Regions from separate parts of the Homo sapiens genome. Here all the other regions are linked to region 5. Evidence: fine-mapped expression QTL. A gene starts in region 5. Each other region holds a variant in brackets. All regions are shown on one strand. Distances are from middle to middle.

Region 1 (6,632 bases), 120 kb before region 5:
TCTACTCTATGACAGGTGTTGTTTCAAGTTTCAAGAACACAATGGTGAATAAAGAAAAATTCCTGCTGTAGTCCCAGCTACTCGGGAAGCTAAGCCAGGAGGATTGCTTGAGCCCAGGAGGTCTGGACTAGCCTGGACAACATAGTGAGACCCTGTCTCTAAAAAGGAAAAAAATCCCTGCTTTTATGGAACTTACATTCTAATAGGATAAGCAGATATAAACAGATATACAAATATATGTATATATACACATTTTAAGTTGATGATCAAGTTCTAGTAAGAAAAACAACATAGAGAAAGAGGGTGGGGTACAATGGGGATTGGTTTGTTATGGTCTTTTTTTTTTTTCTCCTTCCAGTTTATTTATTTTTCTCTCTAAGACCAATTTACAGTCTATTAGCACTGTGTGAGCACCTGTTTCACCACATATACAAACCCCTCCAAGACTATAAGGATATCATTAGGCTTTATATCAGTGTCAGGTAGTAAACATAATTTTGTACATACTTTGCATTTTATTTCTCCTGAGGTTCAGTATTTTCCATGGGTAAACAATAAATATGTTAGAACATATTTATTCAAGATGAGACATTTGTCTCCTGGTGAGACATCTTGGTCTAATGCTGACTCTGGGGACATTTGGTTGTTGACTGTGAGGTGGCTATCTACATGTGGAGTGGAGGAGTCCTGGCCTTGGATTGAGGAGAACAAGGTCAACTTCTCACCTCACTCGTTTCTGGCTTTTGCGACCTTGGATAAGTTTAACTTTCTCTCTCCTAGGTTTAGTTTTCTTGTGTGTAAGTGCTGCCTTCTCACTGTGAGCTCACACAGCCTTTCCTCAGTGTGTGTGTGCAGAGATCTCTCTCTTCCACTTTTTTTAAATGAATTATTTAATTTGGAGGACCAAGTGCAGAATCTTCCTCTACTTATAAGGCCAAAAATCCTATCCAATTAGAAACTCATTCTAATGACCTCATTTAACCTTAATTACCTCTTACAAGTCCTGTCTAGAAATACAGTCATATTGGGGTTTAGGGCTTCAATATACGAATTTGGGGGGATGGGGAGACAATTCAGTCCATAGTAAACACTTTCTCGAAGAGTAGTTACAATGTTTATAAGAGACAATGTAGGTAAAAGTAGTTTCAGTTACCTGCAGCTAAATGCAGTTTATTATCCCTTCAGAATCCTCTGCAGAAGAGGCACCTAATAAATATTATTTATTTGGACTTAACCTAAGGTATTATTCTTTATATAGTGCCTTCCCATGGAATGATTGAAATCATGTTTATCATTTTGCAGCACAGTTTATTTCTTATAGGGTCATGGCTAATAAAAAACATGGGAAAATGACCCTCACTAATAGAGTCATTAATTTAAATAAGGAAATGTAATTTCAAATTTTTTCTTTTTGGGGGCCTATTACGTTAACAATGCTTTTAAAAATTTATTGTAAATATGAGTGTTATAAAACAGAAATTTCCACATTATGTTGGGATTATAAATTGGCATGCTCCTGAATAGCAATTTTTGGCAATGCATATTTAAGGATCTTAGATAATGTTTTTCACTTTTGATTTAGTATTTCCACTTCATGAATATCCTTAGGAAATAATATTTGAACAAAGATTTATGTACAAAGATGTGTGAGCTGTATGATCTATAATGCATAGAAATGGGAATCAATTGAAATAGTCCATAATGAAGAACTAATTACTTATCAATATATCCATAAATTATGCATCCATTAAAAATTATTTCTAAGCATATTTAGTTATCTAAATATATATATAGCATGACACCTAAGTTTATTTTATATATATGGGATACATGATGTGAGATATATGTATATATGAATGTGAATATATATGATATACATATAAAAAGAATAGGAGATACTAGGAGTTATTTTAATTTTGTCTTTATGTTTCTCATTTCATAAATTTCTATGAAGAACATTTTAATTGTTTTATACCCAGAAAAAAGAGGGGCTAGTTTTTCTTAGCCAGGTGTATATTGGTCCTTCCTTGATTGTTTAAAATACCTCCGTTTATCTTCTTCTAGGATCACTCATTTTTCATTGGTTTATTTGTAAGATGAAGCACTGTCCAGCAGTGACGACTGTTGGAAAAGATATGTCTAAAGGCTGTTGTCTCCTCTTGGCAAGTTTACTTGGAGCTGGTGTACTGGGTGACGGCCTTGGTGCCCTCCGACACGGCGTGCTTGGCCAGCTCCCCGGGCAGCAGCAGGCGCACAGCCGTCTGGATCTCCCTGGAGGTGATGATCGAGCGCTTGTTGTAATGCGCCAGGCCGGAAGACTCGCCCGCGATGCCCTCAACGATGTCATTAACGAATGGCCTTGGAAGAGATGCGGGTGTCGGGGTGGACCTGCTTCAGCAGAGTAGCTCTCCTTGCGGCTGCGCTTGCGCTTCTTGCCAACCTTCTGCGCCTTGGTCACCGCCTTCTTGGAGCCCTTCTTCAGGGAGGGAGCAGACTTGGCTGGCTCAGGCATCTTCAAACACCAGAAGTATGTCCCTGATGGTCTTTTTCACAAGGATAACTGAGTAGAGACCTGACTGATGCAGAGGGGTGAGTCCTATGAAAGACCCAGAGTTGGAAGATTATAGGCCAGGTGAACAGCAAGGCAATGACTTTGAGGCAGGAGAGAGCTTGAGGGGTTCCAGGGAAAACAAGATGGCCATAGTGGTTGAGCAAGAGTGGGAAGGAGAGAAGGTGAGGTTGGGAGTGTCAGGGGCAGGGGCAGGAAGAACCTTGAGACCTTGGTGAAGGTTTGTATTTTATTGTTATGGGAGCCTTTGAACATAACTTAAAGAAGTTATTTACTTTTTTGGTGGTTGTCCTTGAGTTTGCAGTATATGTTTATAACTAACCCATGTCTTCTTTCTTTCCTTCTTTTTTTTGGGGGAGGTGGGGTGGGATGGGGGGGGACAGGGTCTCTGCCACCCAGGCTAGAGTGCAGTAGTGCAATCACAGCTCACTGCAGCCTCAAACTCCTGGGCTCCAGCGATCCTCCTGCCTCAGCCTCTTGAGTAACTAGGGCTGTAGGTATGCATCGCTATGCCCGGCTAATTTATTTTATTTTTAATTTTTTGTAGAGATGGGGGTCCATGTCCTCTTTGAAATAACACTATACTACTTCAAGGGTATGCAGGTACTTTATACAAGAGCATTTTCTCTTTTCTTTCTTTCTCTTTCTGTCTCTCTGTCTCTCTCTTTCTCTTTCTTTGTCTTCTTTCTTTCTCTTTCTGTCTGTCTCTTTCTCTTTGTCTTCTTTCTTTCTCTTTCTTTGTCTTTCTCTTTCTTTTCTTTTCTTTCTTTTCTTTCTTTTTTTTTTGACAGAGACTCACTCTGTCACCCAGGCTGGAGTGCAGTAGTGCAATCTCAGCTCACTGCAACCTCCACCTCCCGGGTTCAAGTGATTTTCCTGCCTCAGCCTCCTGAGTAGCTGGGATTACAGGCATAACCCATCACGCCTGGCTAATTTTTGTATTTTTAGTAGAGA[C/T]GGGGTGTTTCCCCATGTTGGTCAGGCTGGTCTTGAACTCTTGACCTCAAGTGATCCTCCCGCTTTGGCCTCCCAAAGTGCTGGGATTACAGGCATGAGCCACCATGTCAGGGCCCTCTGGAGGTTTTTTTTTTTTTTTTTTTTTTTTTTTGAGACAGAGTGTTGCTCTGGTTGCGCAGGCTGGAGTGCAATGGCATGATCTCAACCAACTAACTGCAACCTCCACCTCCCAGGTTCAAGCTATTCTCCTGCCTCAGCCTCCCATGTAGCTGGAATTATAGGCATGTGCCACCATGCTCGGCTAATTTTGTACTTTTAGTAGAGACGGGGTTTCTCCATGTTGGTCAGGCTGGTCTCGAACTCCCCACCTCAGGTGATCCATCCACCTTGGCCTCCCAAAGTTCTGGGATTACAGGCGTGAGCCACCACACCCAGCCTGGAGTTTTTAACTCTCAAACTTGTCCGTAAGGAGCCTCTGTCAATACATTAAATCACAGTTTAGGTTTTCTTTATTTCCTTCCATCTTTGAATTTCATTTGTTCTTTTTCTGGTTCCTTAAGGTGTAAAGTTGTTGATTTGAGATTATTGTTCTTTTTAAATGTAAACATTTATAGCTATTAATTTCTGTCTTAAGGCTGGACGCGATGGCTCATGCCTGTAATCCCAGCACTTGAGGCCAAGGTGGGCGGATCACCTGAGGTCAGGAGTTTGAGACCAGCCTGGCCAACATGGTGAAACCCTATCTCTACTAATAATACAAAAATTAGCCAGGATGGTGGCAGGCGCCTGTAATCCCAGCTACTTAGGAGGCTGAGGCAGGAGAATTGCTTGAACCCGGGAGGCAGAGGTTGCAGTGAGCCGATATCGTGCCATTACACTCCAGCCTGGGGGACAAGAGCAAGACTTCATCCCCCCCAAAAAAAAAAATTTCCCTCTTTAGCACTGCTTTCACTGCATCTCATAGTTTTGCTGTTGTGTTTTCATTTTTATTTGTCTCAACGTATGTTCTCATTTCCCTTTTCTTTGAGGCATTGGTTGTTTGAGTGGGTTGTTAATTTCCACATATTTGTGGCCCAGTGGCTTTTATATATACTTATGAAGTTACCTTTAGTAGTATTTTTTTTTCTTCTGTCTTTGAATTACTGTCTATTGTCTTTTCATTTCAGTCTGAAGCACTCCGTTTAGCATTTCTTGTAGGGCAGTACTGGTAATAAGACTCAGTCTTTTAAATCTGGATATATCTTAATTTCTCCTTCATTCTTGAATGATAGTTTTGCTGTATATAGAGTTCTCGGTTGACAGTCTTTTTCTTTCAAGACTTTAAATATGTCATCCAGTGCCTTTTGGCCTCCATGGTTTCTAGTGGAAGATAAACTGTCATTCTTAATGAAGGTCTCTTGTACATGCATGAGTCACTTTTTTTTTTTTTTTTTTTTTTCCACGGAGTCTTGCTCTGTCGCCCAGGCTGGACTGCAGTGGTGTGATCTTGGCTCACTGCAAGCTCTGCCTCCAGGTTCTGGCCATTCTCCTGCCTCAGCCTCCTGAGTAGCTGGGACTACAGGTGACCGCCACCACGCCCAGCTAATTTTTTGTATTTTCAGTAGAGATGGGGTTTCACCGTGTTAGCCAGGATGGTCTCAATCTCCTGACCTCATGATCCGCCCACCTCAGCCTCCCAAAGTGCTGGGATTACAGGCATGAGCCACCGCACCTGGCCGCATGAGTCACTTCTACCTGATGCTTTCAAAATTATCTTTTTGTCTATGGGAGTTGATAATTTGACTATATGTCTCAGTGTGTATCTCTTCAAAGTTTTCCTGCTTGGAGTTCATTGAGCTTCTTAGATGTATATATTCATGTTTTTAATCAGATTTGGGAAGTTGTCAGCTATTATTTCTTCAAATTTTTTGCTGCTCCTTTCTCTATGTCTTCTCCTTCTGGGATTCCTATAATGTGTATTTGGTATGCTTGATGAGGTCCCATAGGTTCCTCAGGCTGTCTTCATTTTTCTTCACTCTTTCTTTCTTTTCCCTAGACTGGGTAATTTTCAATGTCTTATCTTCAATTTTGCCAGTCCTCTCTTTTCCTTGTTCAAACTTGCTGTTGAATCCCTCTATTGCATTTTTCATTTTAGTTATTGCAGATTTTGTTTGGCTCCTTTTTATAATTTCTATTTATACTTTCATTTTGTTCAGACATTGTTTTCTTGATTTCTATTAGTGTTTATTCATGGTTTCCTTTAGAAAACATATTGAACATATTTAAAACAATTGATTTAACATCTTTGACTAATAATTCCAAAGTCTGGTCTTCTTTAGGTATGGTTTCTGTGAAATTCTTTATATCCTGTGAATGGATCATACTTTCCTGTTGCTTTACATGTTTTATAATTTTTTGTTGAGAACTGGTTATTCTGAGCATTATGTTGTAGTAACTCTGGAATCTAATTCTACTCCTTAGGGATTGCTTGTTTTTGCTTGTTGTGGGCTGGACCCATTCCTATTTGTGCCTTTTCCAAACAATGTATCTTCCTTGTTGTGTGTGGCTACTGAGGTTTCTTTTCTGTTATCTCTACAGTTAGCCAGTAACCTGACAAAAATGTCCTTAAATGTCTGACTTTCAAGAAGGAGGGAAGATATCCTGTCTCTTTAAATCTCTTGTGGCTGGGAAGCTGCTTCAGCTTGTGAAGTGGGCATTAAAAAATGGTTGGCCTCCAGCCTGGCCCCTCATCACTTTATCAAAATCAGCAAGCAGCTAGCAGAACACATGACCCCCACTCCTGGAGGATAAGGTCTTTTGTGCTCACACTGGTTCCAGGAAGCTGCCCCAGGAATGTGGGCTGCTTCCCTGACAGTTTCCTGATGCTGGGTGGCAGGCTTTTTGCTGTTGCTGCTACATCACAAAAGGCTGAAGTTCACCAAAATTTACTAGCAACTTCATCAAACTCTCCCTCAAATGTCAGAAATGTTCCAAAATAAGACAATTCCTGCCAGTTCAATAGTTGTTTAGGTGAAGGGACAGATTCCTGGAGCCTCCTGCTCTGCTATCTTCCCTGACATCATTCCCTACATTATGCCTTTTTTTTGAGACAGAGTTTCACTTTGTTGCT
Region 2 (5,000 bases), 110 kb before region 5:
CAGCAGAGTTTGGATGCTTAATTGCTGTGCCTTACAAGGGGCCGGACAAAGGGCAAGTTAGGATTCCACGGAGATCATCTAAGTAATGAATGATCAGGGCTTGCACTAAGGCAGTGGCAACAGTGTTGTAAGGTGGAGCACATGTCTGGCGATTTTGAGGAAGCAGAATTCACAGGACATGATTGACTATAGAGGAGTAAGGGAGTGAGGATCCGGGATGACTGTCTGGTTCCTAGTTGGTTTCTTGTAGGAGACCCGTTCACTAAGGCAGAAGACATGTGAAGAAATGAGGTTTGGAAAAAGAGGGGGACATAATCAGGTCAGTTTTGGATGTGCTTGAGTTGGACAAACCAAATGGAGAAATCTAGAAAGCAACTGGGCCTGAAGGTGAGGAGAGAACAGAAGCCAGAGGGGTGATGAGATTCCTGAGGGGATGGGCAAGGAGGAGAAGATCCGTGAAGGCAGGGCTCAGATACCCCCTGCAACTGTCTCCCACCTTGAAGGGATAAGCAGAGAAATACAAGCTATCTACCAGAATATCAGACCTAGTGATCATTTATTTAACAAAATGATAGTAAAGAAACAAATGACTGAAGATTCATGCAGTTTAGATTTTTAGGAAGTCCAGCTGCTTTCAAGGTAAATGTCTCCGTACTCCTAGGAGATATTGGCAAATCTAGTTTGCTTATTTGATATATATTTATCCCTATTTTTTTCAAATGGGATCAAGTACTTTTGTAGTAATGACATGACAAACATTATTCGTTTTCAGAAATCTTTTCAGTTATAGTAATTTCCTTTTAGCCTTGAAAAATGGAAAACTATCCTCAACCCTCTAAATACTCTTGTTGTAAGAAAGTCTTCTGATCTCTAACATCACTTTTTTTTTTTTAAATCTTAGTTTTTAATTGTATATATATACTTAAAATGTTTCCTGGTTAGTTTTCAGTCTTCACCTTCTGCAAGTTCCATGACAGCAGGAACCATTTATTTCACCACTGTATGCTTGGGGCCTAGCAGGTTTTTGGCATACTTCTTGATTAACTCATGAACTTTACTAGCTCCTCCCATCCCAAATCTCCTCCTTTCCTCCCTCCCTCCCTCTCTTCTTTCCTTCTGTTCAACAAATATTTGTTGGATGCCTACTGTAAGCCAGGGATTCAGCTTAGACTGGTATATAAAGATGACTAAGGCAGTGCTCCTGCTCTTAATACTTTGGTAGATACAAACTTGGTATGTGGGTAGCACCTTGATGTCTAGAATTTCACCAAGAAGATAGCAAGGGGGCCGGGTGCGTTGGCTCACGCCTGTAATCCCAGCACTTTGGGAGGCCGAGGCAGGTGGACCATGAGGTCAGGAGATCAAGATCATCCTGGCCAACATGGTGAAACCCCGTCTCTACTAAAAAATACAAAAAAATGAGTCGGGCGTGGTGGCGGGTGCCTGTAGTCCCAGCTACTCAGGAGGCTGAGGCAGGAGAATGGCATGAACCCAGGAGGCAGAGCTTGCAGTGAGCCGAGATCGTGCCACTGCACTCCAGCCTGGGCAACAGAGTGAGACTCCGTCTCAAAAAAAAAAAAAAAAAAAAAAAAAGATAGCGAGGGAAAGGCATCGCTGTCAGAAGGAAATGGCATGTGTAACAAGCTTAGGGGTAGGGGTATGTGAAACGCACATGGTGTACATGAGGAAAGGCCAGGAGCTTTATGTCGCTGGAGCACAAAACAGTATTCATGGAATGCTGTGGAAAGTGGGGCAGACAAATCAGTGCCAGGTGAGGCTGAAAAAGTGAAGCCTGTGAAGGCATGAGAAACCATCTTAATTTTTGGATTTTTGTGCCCCTAATCTTGACCCATAAGGGCATCTGGAAAGACAGGTGAGGAGTCAGCATTTTTGTGGTTGACAGAGAAAATGGTGGAGGATTCATTCATTCATACTTATACTTTCTTGCATTGCCTATCTTTTGGTTTTATAAGAGAGAGAAAAAATTATTTTATAAGCAATTATTTATAAAACAATTCATTAGAGCAAATTTGTTTTTGAATCAGGAGCAAAATATTTTTTGTAATAAATGGACAAAAGCTTTTGCCTCTTGTCGATTTCAATCATTAAACTGTGAGGGAGAGTTTTTCAATTTAGTGGATTAACATATTTCAAGGCATTATCCTTCAACAATAAGGGAGAGGTTTCTCTGGCCTCATTAATTTTTGGTGTAAACTCATGAATTCTTATTTCATTCAATAGGCTATAATCTATTACGGACATTAATTATTCTGACCCTCAAACTGAACCAGATTTGACAGGGGCAGCCCCTTCAAGCTGGCTTTGTCCTTCTGACTCTTCACCATTTTGTGAGCCCTTCTTTACTTTTAGGCACAATATATTCTAGGCTTATCTTGGACTTTCCCTGTCACGGCCTTGGGATCAGCCAGTTCTCTAGAGAATGGAACTGGTTTTATATATTTGCAATTTTCTAAATTGTGTGTCTGAGACACAAGTTTTTTATAATTTTTATTTACCAGGTTTTAAAAAATGCCATTTGATATTCAGTTTAATGCCAATTACCTTCTGGCAACATTTGTTTCCCACAACCTAATATATCCCATGAGCCCCTGACCTTGGGGTCAAAATTTCTCCCAGCTACACCAGGTTTTAAGAACTAATGAGGCTGGCAAGGGATGAGAGTATTTACAATTTTTTTTAAAGTAGTTTTAAAAACACATGTAAAATAAAAAGCACCTCAGTATTTTTTGTATCTATGTAAATATTTTATTCTGCTTCCAGATAGAACATTGAAGTTTACATGTTATTTTAAAGACAATAAACAGCTAAGCTACTGACATAAAATAT[G/A]CAATAAATTTATGAGATATAAGGTACAGATGAGAAAAATCTGAAATAAGTTTTTAACTTCATTTAGCCTATTAGGAACATGAAGATGTCTGGAATTGATGCTGGCCTTGGTCTCAAGTACTTTTTCCCATATGTATTTGTTTTATCCTTCCAGAAAGCATATCATATTAGAGTGTCTAAGAAATCAGTGAATCACTAAGTTTTCCATCTTACCGAAGTACAAAACATTATTTCAAATCTAGGCCTTCTGACAGAATCCAATATCTATTTTTATACTTACTTTTCTTTCTACTAAGTTCTTTAATAAAATTATGAATCAGAAAGCAAGTACAAGACATGCTTATTTCACACAGAATATCAATGAAGACTTAAGAAGATAAATAGCAAGTACTTCTAAAAAATCACAAATTTTGACATTTGGAACAATATAATTGCCATACTATTATATCTTTTATTAAAAAAGACCTTTTCCAGCTTGTTTCCAGACTTCTTTTACTCCTTTAATGCTTTCTTTCTTCACACACTTCCAGTATTCTTGTATACTCTGATGTTGTGGTACCTGTTAACCGAAAGTAAAAATCAAGGGGTCATTGTCTTCAAGGTTAAACATGATTTCATATATACTTTACGTTACTGTTTATTTCCTTCCCACACTCCTCCAAAAATAGTTGAGGGTGAATTATGTTGTAAAAGATGATCACAACAGAACTGAAAATGGGGGTAAAAGACAAAAAGTGAATGTAACTATGCTTAAGGTTACTAGGGAGTGGAACCAGACTGAGCACACATTAATGGAGTTTCTTCTCTAAGAGGGTAATGAAGACTTTGGGCCATCTCTTCTTTCACATACTGGCTTTAAAATTTAATTACTTTATAATGTTTTCCTTTTATAATGTTTTATAATCTTTCCCTTTTTTTCTGGTGAACTTTGTTTAGCTATGTAGAATACAATTATAAGCCTAAAGCTTTGATTTAACATTGGCTAAAATTAAAAAAAAAAAAGGCCACAAAGTATTTGATGAAAAGCTTCAAGAAATAATCTAATTCATGGACGTGTTTTGTTAGCTAAAAATACATGTGGATTACTACTACTCTCAACAAAATGAAAAGGTAAAGGTTAGGAAATATTTGGATCCGGGGGACCACAGGAGCATAGCACTGATGAAAATTAGCCAAGTGGAAGCAAAATTCTACTCCAGATTATATATGTTCTTTTTCTTATGACTGATTTACAGCTTTTCTTTTTAATGTCTTCTGAGAAAGGGCAAGGAGACTCCCAGGTACACTCAATTGTGAACTGAAAAGACTGGCTTAATTTCCCGGAATATATTTATGGGTGTTGGATAACTGCAAAGTTTATAAAATATTAATATGTTTGCTAATGAAAATAATATTTATTTTTCCCTAAGTTATGTTTGTTGCAGGAAATGGAATTGCTTTTCTAAGTTGTAAATAGCTTTATTTTCATGAATAGTACCATATTCTCTCTCTCTCTCCTTCCTTTTTTCTTGCCTACCTACCAACCATGTAGATTCTCTTTGGACCCTAGTCTTCCCCTGGCAGACTTCTTTTCTGAGAGTGCTTCTAGCACATTCTAATCTGAACAAAAATCTGAATTTGATTTGTCCCACAAGTATAGACTCATATGTGACTTTGAGTGAATAATGCTAATAGTGAAATTTACTTCATAATCTCAGCCACTATACTAAGTATTTTACATCAAATTCTAACAATAATGCTTTCTGGTAGATTAGTTTCCTCATGGTATGGGTCAAGAATCTGAGACTAAAAAAAATTAAGTGGCTTTGCAAGATTAAGCAGTTAATAAACAGTAGAGGTGGGATTTGAATTTACATATATCTAATTACATGTAGTTAGTCAAATCCTAGGCTATGATTTTTTTTCCCTTTTTTTGTAGAAACAGAGTCTCATGATGTTATCCACGCTGGTCTCAAACTCCTGGCCTCAAGTGATCCACCCGGCTCGGCCTCCCACAATGTGCTGGGATTACAGATGTGAGCCACCATGTCCAGCTAGGCTACATTTCTGAATAGTAATTTCTTTTTTAAAAAATTATTTTTTTTTGGAGACAAGGGCTTGCTCTGTTGCACAGTCTAGAGTGCAGTGGTGCGATCGTAGCTCACAGTCACTTT
Region 3 (5,000 bases), 63 kb before region 5:
TGTTCTGAAGACAATCCCTTCTTTCCTATTTTCCAGGATTTTGTCCTATTCATACTTCCTTTGTATTGTCCACCTCTCCTTCTCATCAACAAGAAACATGCTCACCACCTAAAATAAACCAATATTCTCTTGGCCTTTTTTCTCTACCCTTAGCTACTACCCTCTAACTCCTCTGTTCATGACCATGTCTCTCAAGAGGTCTGCGTTTACTTTTCTCATATCCGCCCTCACGTCTCAGTGCTCTGCAACTTGGCTTTAGATCTCATCCTATCACTGATCTGTACAGTTGGCCCTCCGCATCCATGCATTCAACCAACCGTGTATCAAAAATATTAAAAAAAAAAGGTCTGGTGTGGTGGCTCATGCCTGTAATCCCATTACTTTCAATGGCCAAGTCAGGAGGACTGCTTGAGCCCAGGAGTTTGAGTCCAGCCTGAGCAATGTAGTGAGACTCCCGTCTATACTAAAATTAAAAAAAATTAGCCATGTATGGTGGTGCACACCTGTAGTCCCAGCAGGCTGCAGCAGGAGGACTGCTTGAGTCCCAGAGTTTGACGCTGCCGGGAGCTATGACTGCGCCACTGCACTCCAACCCAGCAACAGAGCAAGACCCTGTCTCAAAAAAAAAAAAAAAAAACCCCAAACAACCCACACCAATACAAATAAATAGAGTTACAGAATATAACAACTATATACATAGCATTTACATTGTATTAGGTATTATAAGTAATCTAGAGATGATTTGAACTAAATGGGAGGATGTTTGTAGGTTATACGCAAATATGATGCCATTTTATATCAGGATCTTGAGCATTCTTGGATTTTGGTATCCAAGGGGGGTCCTGGAATCAATACCCCATAGATAACAAGGCACCACTGTACTTGTTAAAATGTCAAACACTTCCAGCTGCTAAATATAGAGGATACTTCTCAGTCCTTAGCTCACTCAACTCCCTACATTTACTTGGTTTTGACATTTGATAAGTTCCCTTTTTCTTTAACACTTTCTCTGCTTGGCTTCTGTGATAACACTCTCCTGGCATTCCTCTACCTCTCTGATTACTCTGCCATGACCTCTTTCCGTCCACTCCCCTAAGTGGTGTGGCTCCTCTGGATGCCCTTGAAGGCTTCTCATCTTTTATTTTAGATACTCTGCCTCATACCCTCATCCATTAAAACATTGATGTTTTAATAATTTATCTGTAATTGCTCAAAGACTTTGAAAAAGTTACCTCCTTACTTCATGTTTTAAAAACACCTATTAAATAACATGGTACAAATCTCATACCTTAATTCCTTAATAATACTTCAGTTAAATAAAACACATAACTAGAAATTTAACAACAAACCAAAATTACCTTTATCGCCAAGGTCTCTGAAAAAAGTTGATCCACAGCCAGCTGTTTGGATCCCTGACAGTGTATCCTCGATGTCCTTTGAATACACATATTAAAATTAAACTTCTAAAAGTTCATTTTCTTTGTAGCTGGGACTACAGACGCCCACCTCCATAGCCGGCTAATTTCTTTTTGTATTTTTAGTAGACACAGGGCTTCACTGTGTTAGCCAGGATGGTGATCTCCTGACCTCGTGATCCGCCCACCTTGGCCTCCCAAAGTGCTGGGATTACAGGTGTGAGCCACCGTGCCCGGCCAAAAGTTCATTTTCTATCTTACCAAAAACAAACCCTGCCCCCCACAACATGATGCTTACCTTTTTTGTCAGCTTCTTGACTGAAGTTTTACCTACAACAAATAAGAAACATTATTTAGTATCCATATTCTTTGGTAAAACTCAACTTGCACTAAGAAAGAAAATTATTTAAAAGACAAAACAAACAACTAAATATTTATTTAAAAAGCAAAGGCTTGTAATTTTAGCTAATATCCTTAAGCCATAATCATGAGTCAGAGAATTCTAAGACTAAACACAAAGACACTACAGTTTTTCACAAGATCCATTTTCAATTTCACTCACCCTATTTCATACATATGAAATTGTATATAACCATCTATGATTTATCCTAGTTGTATGAATCATATTATTAATTCTTGTCAAACATAATTTCTTCACATGATTATTAAAATCACTCTCTTTTTACTTTCATTGATTTAGAAAAAAACACTCATGATTTATAAAGCTTCCTTTTTTTGAACTCTGGAAAGTCCTCTTAGGCTTATAACTCTCCAGTCAAATGTAAAAGTCTAGCCAACATAACCATCCATTCTAAAGTAGTTATTTTTAATAATTTCCTACTGGATAACAGAGATTTAAAATTCTTTCAGGTTTTCAGCCACCCTCTTTACTGCCTACATCATTTTCCTAATATCCACCATAATTCTAAAGCTATTACATTGTTT[C/CT]TTTTTTTTAGGACTTACTCTGATGATAGCCTCAAATCATTTTAAACATCCAGAACAAAACTGAAAAATGTTTTATTTTGTTTCTTACATAAGCAATATACAGCACTAACTTTACTTATTGCTCTCAAAATTATCTTGTCTATGAAGTTCCTTCAGCACAATTACGCAGTCTGTAGAAATTCAGGTGGCACATTAAAAAAGAGTGCTTTTAGATGTGGCTTTTCTGTAGTTTGGGTTGTTTAATTTGGACGATAAATCTACAAGGGCAAATTCTATTATTTGGTATTAGTAAACTGTCAGGATTTTATTTTTACATTATTAGTCAAAACATTACTTGTGAATATGACTACATACTTTTTAGAAACATCTATGACTATGTTTGTAAGCTTAGGTGTTGTTATTTTGGGATAATTTTTACTCACTGGAGAAACTATTATGTGCCAGCCAAAGACAAAGAGCCCCAGATTCTACTGTTAGGTGTTGTTATAGTATCAGATAATCAAATAGATAAAAATTACCATTTATTGGACAAATCTAAGTGAGTGAATGTGTATATAATACGTAGTCATATAATGCTGATAATGAACTCCAAAAAACTGTGTAATACATGTATTTACTTATCTTTACATAGTCAATTAACTTAAAAAAGAAACTGATCATTATTTCTATGCTTGTCCTAAAGTTACGCCACAAATAGTCATTACCATGTACCCTTTTATTTTTAGACAACTAAAATTAGTCTTATCTGTTTTTAAAAAGCGGATTAATCCTTACATCCAACTTAAAGTAGTCTAGAAAGCAATGATTGACATTTTGAAGGCAGAAGAGGATCAAGAATTTAAGGTAGCAAAATGGATGGTGTCTAAGAGTTTCTTAGAAATCAGATTATTTCTAAGGGGTGTTATCTGTTTGAAGGCTAGATTCCTTTTTGGTCTTTCAAAAATCTGTTAAAAAAAAAAATCCTTCTACTTGAAACTGAGTGAGTAAAGAAGGTAATGTTTGCTTCCCTCCAGCTAGAAGTCTGGCTGCCAAACAGGTAAGCCAATAAAATTCAATACTATGTGAATGAAATACCACAATAAAGTCATGAATTGATTGAATAATATAACACCAGAATTACAGGTAAAAAGTAAATTATAAAATCTATGGAGGCAGATTTCATACCTGTCTTACTTTTATGTAGGTCAGTGCTAAACATTTAAATATTTGTTGAATGAGTAACTGAATAAACAAATCAGAAAAGATTTCACAATGTCTTCTTATCCAGGTCCCTGTCTTTTGGATAAATTATTATATCCCCACTTTACATGTAAAACAAATTGGCAAGAGGAATTAGGTAACAATATGGGCCTTGAAGGATTTATTTTCATATCTCATATAGATTTTTCAAAAACAGGTGTTAGACTCTTTGAATTCCATGACAGTAGTAAAAAGAGCCTGCGGCCTACTTTCAACACTTAACAAAACTGAATAATTATGCATGGTACGATTATAGAGGCAGTTTTGCTGCTTTTCATTATTTAATGTAGATTACAAGTTCTATTTGACATGTATATAAAAATTTGATCATCAAAAAGGAGAAAACCAGATACTTAATGCAGTTTAAGTTGTAAAAACATCTTTTTAAATTTTTTTAATTCAAATGGAATAAATAATTAGAAAATAATGAAGAAATTAACTTTTTGATTAAAAGTTTAGAAGCTAGTCTCTTACATAAAATTCATTTTTAGATTAAAAAAAAAAGACAAGGCAAAGATACTAGGAATGAACACCCGTTCTCTCCTGCTTCCTCTTTCTCTTCAGTTAATGCACCTCTCCCTGAGTATTATGAGAGGTTGTGGTGTTTCTAATCCAGAACACTCTGGCAGGGTTTTCTTGGTAGACAGTTGTCTCACCCAGGATGCTTACTCTATACTACTTGTTCATGGCTGAGCAGCAAAATAAGAGGTCCATGGTCTGACCTGCACAGCAGGAGCCATGACCTTTTTTCTCCCTACAGCAGTAACAAGGCAAGAGCATATTAAATACACCTAAGTATTTCTGGACAATATTTTTCTATTTAAGGATAAAACCCATCTGGCAAATAATCTAATTTTTCCTTCTGTTTTTGTTTGAGTTTGTTTTTTTCAATGTAGGGTAGGGGGACACTCCTGTCTCTCTTTCTTTGGCTATTTCCACATTCACACAAATAAAAAATTCAGTCTCATTATTTTCACAGCTATTTGATATGTATTCACACACTTATGTATGAAAATAACAGAATGGGGCAAAAAACAGGAAAAAAGATCTAGAATTGAGGTTGTAATGTTTCATTGTATGAATATGAAAACAAGAAAAACACATTAGGGGTTTTTGTTTTTGTAGGAGGCGGCATAGATCTTGAAGCACTAGGAATTTTGGTTCAGGAAGTAAAATGTTTTAAAAGGATTCCACCCATATTAGAGATTCCACCATGTGGTTTTCACTATTTACAGAGGATTTATGAAGTAAAATCCAGATACAGCATATCCTGTTATAGGTAAGTGAGCCTTTTAATACTTAAAATAGTAAAGCTGCATTGATACACATTAAGTGTTCTTATAGATCCAATAAATCTGCCCCTGGCCAAAATAAAGTTATTTGATAATCATAATTACAAAA
Region 4 (5,000 bases), 21 kb before region 5:
ATTGGCGAATCTACTCCTGTGTCTTTATAATCAAGAATAATCCTAGTTAGATCTTGGGAAGAGAGGGGAGCAGACATTTGTAGACTAGAATAGACAGAGCCTGATATTCTACAATGATCCAGGCAACCTAAATCTCCAAACTTGAATTGCTTGTGAAGTACTCTTAAATATTTAAGAGTAACTCTTAAATATTTGAAAACTCAAATGAATTTTGTCACTTTTAGTCTAAAATTAGTTTCTAAATATTTATGGGCTATTGTTTAGATAGTCTCTTAACTTATAACTTTATAAAACTTCATGTAAGTAACAAATATTATTACCAGTATTAATAATATTCCTGAAATTATGGGTATACTCCTTAGGCTGTGAAAACTTGAATACCCCAACTCACTTACAGGCTGGAGGATGAATAAACTTGAAGAAGCTCCCTTGAACAATGAAGGTTAGTGGCAACAGACAAAGGTGTCTGTTCCATTTATAAAGGTGTAAACAGGATAAGCTAGTAAAACAGGGCTAACTGGGTTAGAATAGAGAATGTACAGAGTCAGAACAAAAGAGATGAACTAGTGAAGAGCAAGAGGCAAACATCAACAATTACCTGATCTGAAGGTAACAGCAGGTAAAAATTAGCAGTAATATAGTGACATAATCAAAGCAGTGAAGTGGAAAATAAGTTTAGATCTAGCCTTTGAAACATTTTATGTGAAGGATAAATACTAAGAACTAGGAAGAGACAAGGATGTAACCTGAAAATTTAGAGCAGAGGTTCTGCAACCTCCACCTCCTGGGTTCAAGCAATTCTCGTGCCTCAGCCTCTTGAGTAGCTGGGATTACAGGCATGCACCACCACACCAGGCTAATTTTTGTATTTTTAGTAGAGATGGGGTTTCACCATGTTGACCAGGCTAGTCTCAAACTCCTGGCCTCAAGTGATCCACCCACTTTGGCCTCCCAAAGTGCTGGGATTACAGGTGTGAGCCACTACTCTGCCTACAGCAGAGGTTGTTAACCTTACATGACATAATCATACTTCTGGGGTTCATAACTCCCTGAAATCTGTGTGAAACATGTTTGTGCATTTTTTTGGGAAAGAGTATGTAACTTTTACCACATAATCAGATTCACACCCTATTCAAAGATCAGGAAAAATGACAAAGATGAATGATAAAATGGTAAAATACAATAATTAGTAAAATAAAATGTCTCAATTTTAAGTAGTGCACGTTAGAATAATGTATATAGTTAATGAAGTTTAAACAGCTGAGATGAATATTTGACTCAGTCCCTTTTTGATATCTAGTAGTAAAGGTCTCTTTTAAAATTTAAGTGAAAAGAGCTTACCCAACATGACTAAGTATGAAATGTAAAATCTATTAATTCCAGGTCGTCTAAAAATGTCACCAGCTAAAGCAGATTAATTAAAATAAAGAATACACACAACTGCTATCTAGCACAAATAAAGCAAAGAACTACAGGAAATCATTGCTACACAAAATTTTTTAATAAAAGCTTGGTCTTTAACAAAACCTTACATGCATATCTGCATAATTCTGATTTTTGTTTTCACTATACCTTTTCCTGGATGTGGCAACAAAGCCACTGCGGGGTGCCTTCCCCTGCTCTATATAAGTAAGTGGCCATCACATTAACTATGATAAATACTTATAGCTTTTAGTAGAGAAACAACTAAAGAGAAATACGGGTGACAAGAGACTGGAGAGCAAGGAGACAGGGGCAAGGGCTAGTCTCCAAAAGGGCCTGGACAGCTTACTTTCCCTCTAATGACACAATGTGGAACTACAATAATCATGTCTTAGCTTTAGCACTAAATAGCTTTATTTCTATAAAAACTCTATCTACTGAAGATACAATAGCCAAAACTTTTAACAGTAACTAGTCTTCTCAAGTCATCATAAGAAGAGGATGGTTTTTTACAAGTTTCCTTTTGACTTTTCCCCTAATTTTTCTATAATATACATGTATTTCAATAAGAAAAAAAGCCAACATAAGTAATTTTTAAAAAAGAATTGAGAAACAAGCAACAGCTCTAGCCCCCTTCCTGATATATATCAAAGAATTTCAGTAAACATAAATTATTATTTTGTTAGATATGAGTTCTAAATTTCTCTTCAAAGAATATGTACGTTCAATTATTTGCTTTCTACTTTTAAACTTAACTTCCTTCTAAAACAACCTTTTTCGATTACCTGCTCCACCCTGACTCATTCTAATTACCTGCTCATTCTCCACACTGACTCATTCCAATTTCCTGCTCTGCCATAAGTGTTTTTCCCACCAAACCACTCACCCCGTCACTCTCTTTAGCCAA[T/C]TGGAATTAGTTTAGCCTGTGCGGTCTAACCCTAGCCAATAGGGGAAAGACACAGCAGCAGGGGCCACGTGCATCAGGGGTAAGAACCCCTTCCCCTCCCTTGTCCAAGTGTGCGCTCACCATTGTTCCATCTGTAAGGGCGCACTCTTCTGTAGAAGTACATTGCCTTGCTGAGAATTAAAAAGAAAAATTTATATTCGAGTGCTATTTCTTTTGCAGCGTGGAAACTTCATTTATAACCATTTCTTCAGTGTTTCAGGAAGCAATCTTTTTACAACTATAATTTAAGATGGATTTAAGCACTGCCTAATGGTCAAGTCTACTAATGAAATACAAAGTACTAGTTTAAAAACAAAAAGGCTGGGCTAGCTCATGCCTGTAGTCCTAGCTACTCGAGAGATTGAGGAGGGAGGCCTGCTTGGGTCTAGGAGTTTGCCTTGAGCTATGATTGCACCACTATGCTCTGGCCTGGGCGACAGAGACCTTGTCTATATAAGTAGAAAACAAAAACAAAAACAAAAAAGTTGCAGTATTAAATAAATAAACATGCTTCAATCACTGATAAAAAGTGATCAGTCAGTATTAAGTTTTTTAAAAAATAAAAGTGTGTCTCTGTAAAATACACTACTGATTGCCTTTGTATTGCAACGGTTTCCTGGTTGAACCCCAATGCTTCCTCATAATCATTATTTTCTGGCTTGCCATTAAAGTATCTTACACTTGGTATGTCTGAGAATAGGAAATACTAGGACAGACAAGTCTTTCATATATACTTCAACATATGTAGGCTGCTGGATCAGTTATCATCTGATAATTAAATGAGCCTTTGGGAAGTGCTCAGCTGTTTCCTGTTTTTCCTTTGCAGTAGGGCAGTCACAGCTCCATGCATGGGGCTCCCGCTAAAGCAACAGTCAAAGCAGTACTACTACCATCACCGAAAGAGCAGTTCCCTGACCTGAAATTCAATCCTGGAGCATTCCAAGCATTCCAGAACTTCCCAGGACTGGGCCTGAATGGAGGCAGAGCCATATTGAAAATGTGCTGATTTGAGCTGGTTTCTTAACTGGGCAATTATGACCAAGTTAAACTGAAAAAGTTTTTGTCCTTAAAACAACAGTGTGATTTAATCTCCTGACATTTAAGAAACATAGAAATCAACCCATTTACAGCTTCTCACTGTATATAATCTTCTAATTGCATATACTAGTGAATAAGAAAAATGACATAATTTCAAACAGTAGATGTGCTGCATTATTCATATTTTCCTTTGAAATATCTGGAACAGTTTGTAGAAACACATTGTGCTTTCATATTTAAGGGTTCATTTTGCCTAATTTTAAAAATGGTTTGCACTGGCCAGGCACGGTGGCTCACGCCTGTAATCCCAGCATTTTGGGAGGCTGGGGCGGGTGGATCATGAGGTCAGGAGATCGAGACCATCATGGCTAACAGGGTGAAACCCCGTCTCTACTAAAAATACAAAAAATTAGCTGGGCGTGGTGGCAGGCGCCTGTAGTCCCAGCTACTCGGGAGGCTGGGGCAGGAGAATGGTGTGAAGCTGGGAGGCGGAGCTTGCAGTGAGCCGAGATCACACCACTGCACTCCAGCCTGGGTGACAGAGCGAGACTCCATCTCAAAAAAAAAAAAAAAGGTTTGCATTTCCAGGGTACATACAGCTAAGTGATGAGGGACTGAGGACAAAGATGCCTGCGATCTTAAGGTATACAAGTTTCTAGTACACAACACACAAAGTTAATGATATCCATGTGGATAAATTTCAGATTTTATAACACCTTATTTCCTTAGAAATATCTATGAACTATCTATGGAACCACATATCTATGGAACTTTCATAGATGTCTATGAAAATTTTAAGTCCAGGCTATACTTAAAAAATATGATTCATTATTATTTTTATATTGAAATTACTTATACTCTGAAAACATTTAATAATGTTATTTATGAAGTTATTGAGACAATATATTTACTACTAATTTACTCTACCAAATATTTACTGCTTTTTAAACTATAAATAAAACATTTAAATTCATATACTGCTACTATTAGTGGCTTATGGTGTGTTTATGCACTGTTGTAATTCATAAAACCCCAAAATTCACAGTAACAGAAGCATAATTTGTATATATTAGCTACTAAAACACATGGTTTATAGAACAAGAACAAACAGTAATATTTACTTGGATTCCACTAAACAATATAAATGCAAAAGAAAAGGTTAAATATACTTTGCTGTTACAATTTGTTGTTCTTTCCCCCAGAAGAGTCACTGTATAGATTTACAGTAGGATCGTTAACTACTGTCCTATTACACAATGAAGGAATGTAAGACAACCTCTCATTCATGCAGGACAAACAGCTATGCCAAAAGCACAAATTACATCTAATTACAGGGTATAACTTTGTCATCTCTCTTTTCATAATCTAGCCATTTACAACTTTGATTTTTGACTTCCATTTGGGTTTATTAACATCATAGCTTTGTCATCACCTGTTTCTACAGATATTTTTACCTGAGGCAGTAAAGTATAAAAACTTCTTTGCATTCTTCCTTTACTGTTGCAAGAAAGCTTTAGTCTTCACTGGGATTACAATGTTTCATGGTTATTAAACTTCTGTATGTTGCTATAAAGTTTACTGCTCTTGGCCTACC
Region 5 (5,000 bases):
ACAGGCGTGAGCCACCAGGCCCGGCCGGACATATTCACTATTATTATAGGGCCGCGTCAGGAAGAGTTTACCAACTTGGAATACCAATGTAACTATATTAATGCATAAAATTCTATTGCAATGAAAGATTCATCACAAGCCAAAATTCTGGTATATATCTAGCTCAACTATGCACACCTGTCCCTAAAGTAGTGGTAGTAGGCCCACTTCTTAGGGAAATGTATCAAAATCACTGAGGCGAAGGCAAAGTTTTCAACCTATAGGTCCTCTCAATCCTTCCTGTATTCAGCCACTGATGCTGAAAGGAATGTCCACCGTGGTGGCAAAAGGATGAGAACCACTGTCTCGGTCCAATAGCAGATCAGGCAAATGCTATGCCAACAGACCTTATAAAACGATTGATAATAAAATGGTTTCTGTATTACTTTAGCTAAGATTAAACTTACAAAGCTGCAGGGAAGGAGAGCTGAGAGTTGGGAAGAGAATCCAAAATAACTACACTAGTGTGAAGCTTTTAGAATCAAGTCAGGGATTTCAAAGGAGAAAGATTAGAAGTGGGCCAGAAAAAAAAAAAACAATTAGATGGATAAGTGAAATCAAGAGTCTACAAATTGCAGCTGGCGGGTGAGCGGTATTTAAGTCTTGTTCTAGGGATAGTGAGTGAATCACTTTAGTGGGAAGGTGCCTGAGTAGTGTCAGGTCAGAGTGTGACTATAAAAGGCTCTGAAAGACAAAGTTTTAAAATGTGCATTTTGGCCGGGCGCTGTGGCTCACGCCAGTAATCCCAGCACTCTGGGAGGCCAAGGCAGGCGGATCACGAGGTCAGGAGATCGAGACCATCCTGGCCAACATGGTGAAACCCCGGCTCTACTAACAATACAAAAAAAAATTAGCTGGACGTGGTGGCGTATGCCTGTAATCCTAGCTACTTGGGAGGCTGAGGTAGGAGAATTACTTGAACCGGGGAGTTAAGAGGTTGTAGTGAGCCGGGATCACGCCACTGCACTCCAGCCTGGGTGACAGAGACTCCATCTCAACAACAAAAAAAAAGTGCATTTTACTCTTGGCAAAATGAGACACTGAAGAAGGGTTTCTGAAGAAGGGTACACTGTGTGGTTAAAGTGATACTCCGGAGAAGATTAACCTAAGGGTCTTAAAAACAGGATGAATCGGCCGGGCGCAGTGGCTCACGCCTGTAATTCCAGCACTTAGGGAGGCCAAGGCGGGCGGATCACGAGGTCAGGAGATCGAGACCATCCTGGCTAATACGGTGAAACCCCGTCTCTACTAAAAACACAAAAAATTAGCCGGGCGCGATGGCGGGCGCCTGTAGTCCCAGCTACTCGGGAGGCTGAGGCAGGAGAATGGCGTGAACCCGGGAGGCGGAGCTTGCAGTAAGCCGAGATAGCGCCACTGCAGTCCGGCCTGGGCGACAGAGCGAGACTCCTCTCAAAAAAAACAAAAACAAAAACAAAAAACAAACAAAAAAACCAGGATGAATCTAGGGGAGAGAAACTAATGATGAATACACTGAACTCCTTGGCACAAGATTCACAAAAATGCTATAAAAACACTAGATAATAGATCTTTCCATTATATATGTTTACAATATAATTATAATGTATGTTAATACAAATAAGGAATATCAGTTGCCAATACTTAATTTTAACTCACAAGGCCTTCTTTCCTCTCTTTTTTGTTGTATCTGAATGTTCCTTGAGTTTTTCGCTAGAAAGGCATAATGTAAATCTAAAAAAGAAAATAATAAACTACTACTTTCAATTTTCAAAAAAGCTCATATGTAAAAACTTACTAAGTCTACAAAAATTTTAAAGCACTACTCATTCAAATTTTCAAATGCGTTACAACATCATTTATCCTGAAATAGGGAACTTGAATCTTTTTTTTTTTTTTTTGAGACGGAGTTTCGCTCTTGTAGCTCAGGCTGGAGTGCAATGGCTCGATCTTGGCTCACTGCAACCTCCGCCTCCCGGATTCAAGCGGTTCTCCTACTTCAGCCTCCCGCCACCACACCCAGCTAATTGTTTATATTTTTTAGTAGAGACCGGGGGGGCGGGGCTGGGGTGGGGAGCGGCTTCACCATGTTGGCCAGGCTGGTCTCGAACTCCTGACCTCAGGAGATCCACCCGCCTCGGCCTCCCAAAGCCCTGGGATTAAAGGCGTGTGCCACCGCGCCCGGCGGACTCTTGTCTTTAATAGATGGAGGTTTTAGGAGCAATTTTTGCTTAGAACTTATGGTCCACTAAGATATTAAGGTTTATAATCATGCAATAATGTTCCTTAAAGTTGATAATAAAATCTGGAAATCAACTGGTTAATTTTTGTGGCTGACACATTCGTGACTTAAAAAAGCAATCGACAGAACTTCATCATGCTATACAAAGAAAAGATCGTAAAACTTAGTTGCAAAGCTTAACAAAGGTATATCCCACAGGGGTAACTGGACGCAAACCACCTGCGGATGTGAATGCCACTTCACTGACCAGAGAGGTAGCAAGAGGCGAGGCGCAGTGAGATTCTGAATTAGGAGCCTCGAATTAAGACACGCCCACACTCATCACCACTAAATTAGTGCGGCCAGTTTTGTGGGCCGTGGTGTTCAGCGTCCGCGGGGTTCTCCCAAGGGAGGCAGAATCTCCGGTCACCAGCCTCGAAGGCCCTCGGGGACTCAGGCCGGGGGCCGGTCCAGGAAGGAGCGAGTCCCACCAGTCGCAGGGCGCTCCGATCCGCAGCGGCACCTCCACCCACGGCTCCGGGAGAGCCGCCCAGAGCCAAACCACTCCCCGCCTAAGGGCGTCAGGGGAGGGAGGAGCTTGACTGGGGCTAGCAGAAGGAGTTAGTCCTGTACCTGTGCGGAGACTGTAAAACTGCCATCCCGCGCCGCAACACTGACGCGGCTGTGGTGCCAGGCCGCTCCTGCTCCTGCCAGGGCCGCGCCGGCCACTGCCGCTGCCAAGGGGCCGGGACTCCGCACAGCCTGTCGGCTGACAGCGAGCCCCCGTCGCAGTTTTCCGCCCCAGGCCGCCACCCGCGCGCAGCTACCCGCAGCCGCCGCCATCTTTGCGGAAGCGCAGCTAGGCGGCGCTTCTCTCCCGGCGCCGCCGCCTACCGCTTGGGAACTCTCGCGACATCCGACAGGCTTCCGCCCCGCCTACCGGGCCTGCGCCGTGGGTGCGGTTGCTGAGGCGACGCTCGCAGCCGCAAGAGGTGGCCTTCGGTTCCGGGGCTGCCTTCTAAGGCTGTGGGGATGGGATGACAGGAAGAGTATCAAGACAGTATAATATGACTTCCTAGTCCAAAACAAGATAGTGCCCTCGGTTGTGTGGGCAGGTTTCTCCTTTTCATTTTTTCACCTTGTAAAACTGTGAAACGTTTTTTGAAATAGTCTCTTCTGCATCTGTGTTGTTCATGTCTTCCTATGCTTATAGTCTTGACTGTTCTTTCATTTCTGCTAAAACAACTCTCAGACAAGGCATTCTGTTTATTTCAGTCCCTCACTATTTGCTTATAATGAATTTAAATTCAGTTTCAACAAAAGGTTTGATAGTAGCTCTTATCCTACCTAGAACTAAAAGTCAGAGACAGCAGCACACCAGCCCCATGTCTCTATCATCAGGGACCCAGAGGTTTTCCCCAGTGCAGATTTAGAACGATACCTCCAGTCCTGGCTGTTGCATTGGTGATAAGTGATGTAGCTGAGGCAGACTACTTGGTTTTATTTAACAGCCTCCAATCCTCCATTCTTTGGTCTTCACTTTTCCTGAGTAACTCTTTTTAATAAACTCTTTGTTCAGCCTCTGAAATGTCCCCAGCTATTAGAAGCTTTAGTTGGGCATGCAGTAACGGAGCCAACATCAAAGGGGCCAAGACTCCTAATCACATAATCACTGCTGTCTTGAAGTTTTGCACAAAACAAAACTTCAAGAAACAAAAACAAAAACCTGTCACACGAAATCTAATTTGATCATTCAGTGGAAGTTCCGTGGATCCCTTTGTTATTATCTGCCCTTAATCCTTGCTCCCTTTCTCTTAGCCCGCTTGTCTAAATTAATCTGCAGTCAGAGGTTCCTCACTTTTCCGTCAGCTTCTGGACTTACTTTTCAGTGTGCCTTCCCAGGTAGGAAGTAGAGAGATGAGCCTCACTTCACCGACTTGTGAGCCAGACCTCAAGGTTTGAATCTTAGCTCTACCAGGATGATCACTGTGGTTTGGGGCAAATTATTTAATCTCTCTGAGTCTCCATTTTCTCATTTGTAAATAACTCACGATTTGGTAGATGATCACTGCTATTTGGGGTAAGGTATTTAATCTCTTTGAGTCTCAATTTTTTCATCTGTGAACAACCCTCTTACAGTTTGGGGTGGGGAAGCTAAATGAGATATTTTATATAAAGTGACTAGCCAAATGCCTGGCACATGGTAGGCTCATGACAGATGTGCGTTTACTGTGGTCAAGGTTTGGTTTACTTCTGCCCTGTGAACACAAATGAGCTTGACTGAATGTCCATGATTCCAGATCACTAGCCCATCTTAACCTGAGATTTTCCTGCTTTTTTGTATCTAGCCTGACTTTGTCAACCTCTGGACTGTTTTTCACCTCTGCTAACTCTGGTAGCTTTGGCACATGTCCTGCTTTTCTGGACTATTGACATCTAGCTTGTTTCCTGGTGATAATAGGACTTCCAGGATATTTTGGACACCCTGGATGTCTTACCTTGTAGTTTATTCTTGATTTCCAGAAACCACAGTCTTTACGTGTATACTTCTAACTGCCTCACACAGTTCCTCTAGGTATTTAATGAAACCTGGCATCTATTACTCAGTATTGCCTTAAGCCCAAGATAAGTTTAGATTCCCATTAAAACATGTAGCATATTTAAGAACATTGTCTTTCTCCCACAATTTGACATCCTTGTGGGTGAGATGTCTTCCTTTTCCCTGTTTCTCTAGCACCTAGCACAATGCCCAGCACGTAATAGA

Which allele goes with the higher level. Alleles are on the strand shown, and positions count from the first base shown. SD is a standard deviation of normalised expression in the study named. Not every link is listed here.
For the expression in whole blood of the gene that starts at base 3,101 in region 5, G is the high allele of the variant in region 2 and A is the other (small effect, 0.23 SD a copy in GTEx).

What was found. PIP is the estimated chance that this variant, and not a neighbour inherited with it, causes the effect. A credible set is the group of variants that fine-mapping cannot tell apart.
Region 1: its variant is the best candidate, but not a certain one, in a credible set for the expression of MICU2 in whole blood (INTERVAL, PIP 0.76).
Region 2: its variant is the best candidate, but not a certain one, in a credible set for the expression of MICU2 in whole blood (GTEx, PIP 0.53).
Region 3: its variant is the best candidate, but not a certain one, in a credible set for the expression of MICU2 in whole blood (INTERVAL, PIP 0.55).
Region 4: its variant is the best candidate, but not a certain one, in a credible set for the expression of MICU2 in thyroid (GTEx, PIP 0.79).

Annotation. Positions count from the first base shown.
Region 1 is chr13:21,481,663-21,488,294 of GRCh38, forward strand. It overlaps the pseudogene H2BP6. Among named protein-coding and RNA genes, the nearest start is that of ZDHHC20, 26 kb to the left of the region's middle. The variant C/T (reference allele first, on the strand shown) is at 3,524.
Region 2 is chr13:21,489,948-21,494,947 of GRCh38, forward strand. It overlaps MICU2 (mitochondrial calcium uptake 2), which reads right to left. Exons shown (of 12, transcript NM_152726.3): 12 at 2,744-3,406. The coding sequence ends at 3,302. Among named protein-coding and RNA genes, the nearest start is that of ZDHHC20, 33 kb to the left of the region's middle. The variant G/A (reference allele first, on the strand shown) is at 2,848.
Region 3 is chr13:21,537,944-21,542,943 of GRCh38, forward strand. It overlaps MICU2 (mitochondrial calcium uptake 2), which reads right to left. Exons shown (of 12, transcript NM_152726.3): 3 at 1,714-1,745; 4 at 1,359-1,434. Among named protein-coding and RNA genes, the nearest start is that of MICU2, 64 kb to the right of the region's middle. The variant C/CT (reference allele first, on the strand shown) is at 2,361.
Region 4 is chr13:21,580,425-21,585,424 of GRCh38, forward strand. All of the region lies in intron 1 of MICU2 (mitochondrial calcium uptake 2), which reads right to left. Among named protein-coding and RNA genes, the nearest start is that of MICU2, 21 kb to the right of the region's middle. The variant T/C (reference allele first, on the strand shown) is at 2,330.
Region 5 is chr13:21,601,070-21,606,069 of GRCh38, forward strand. MICU2 (mitochondrial calcium uptake 2) reads right to left here and starts at 3,101. Exons shown (of 12, transcript NM_152726.3): 1 at 2,870-3,101. The coding sequence starts at 3,079. RefSeq lists enhancers at 2,195-2,814, 2,815-3,433, 3,215-3,284 and a silencer at 2,835-3,044.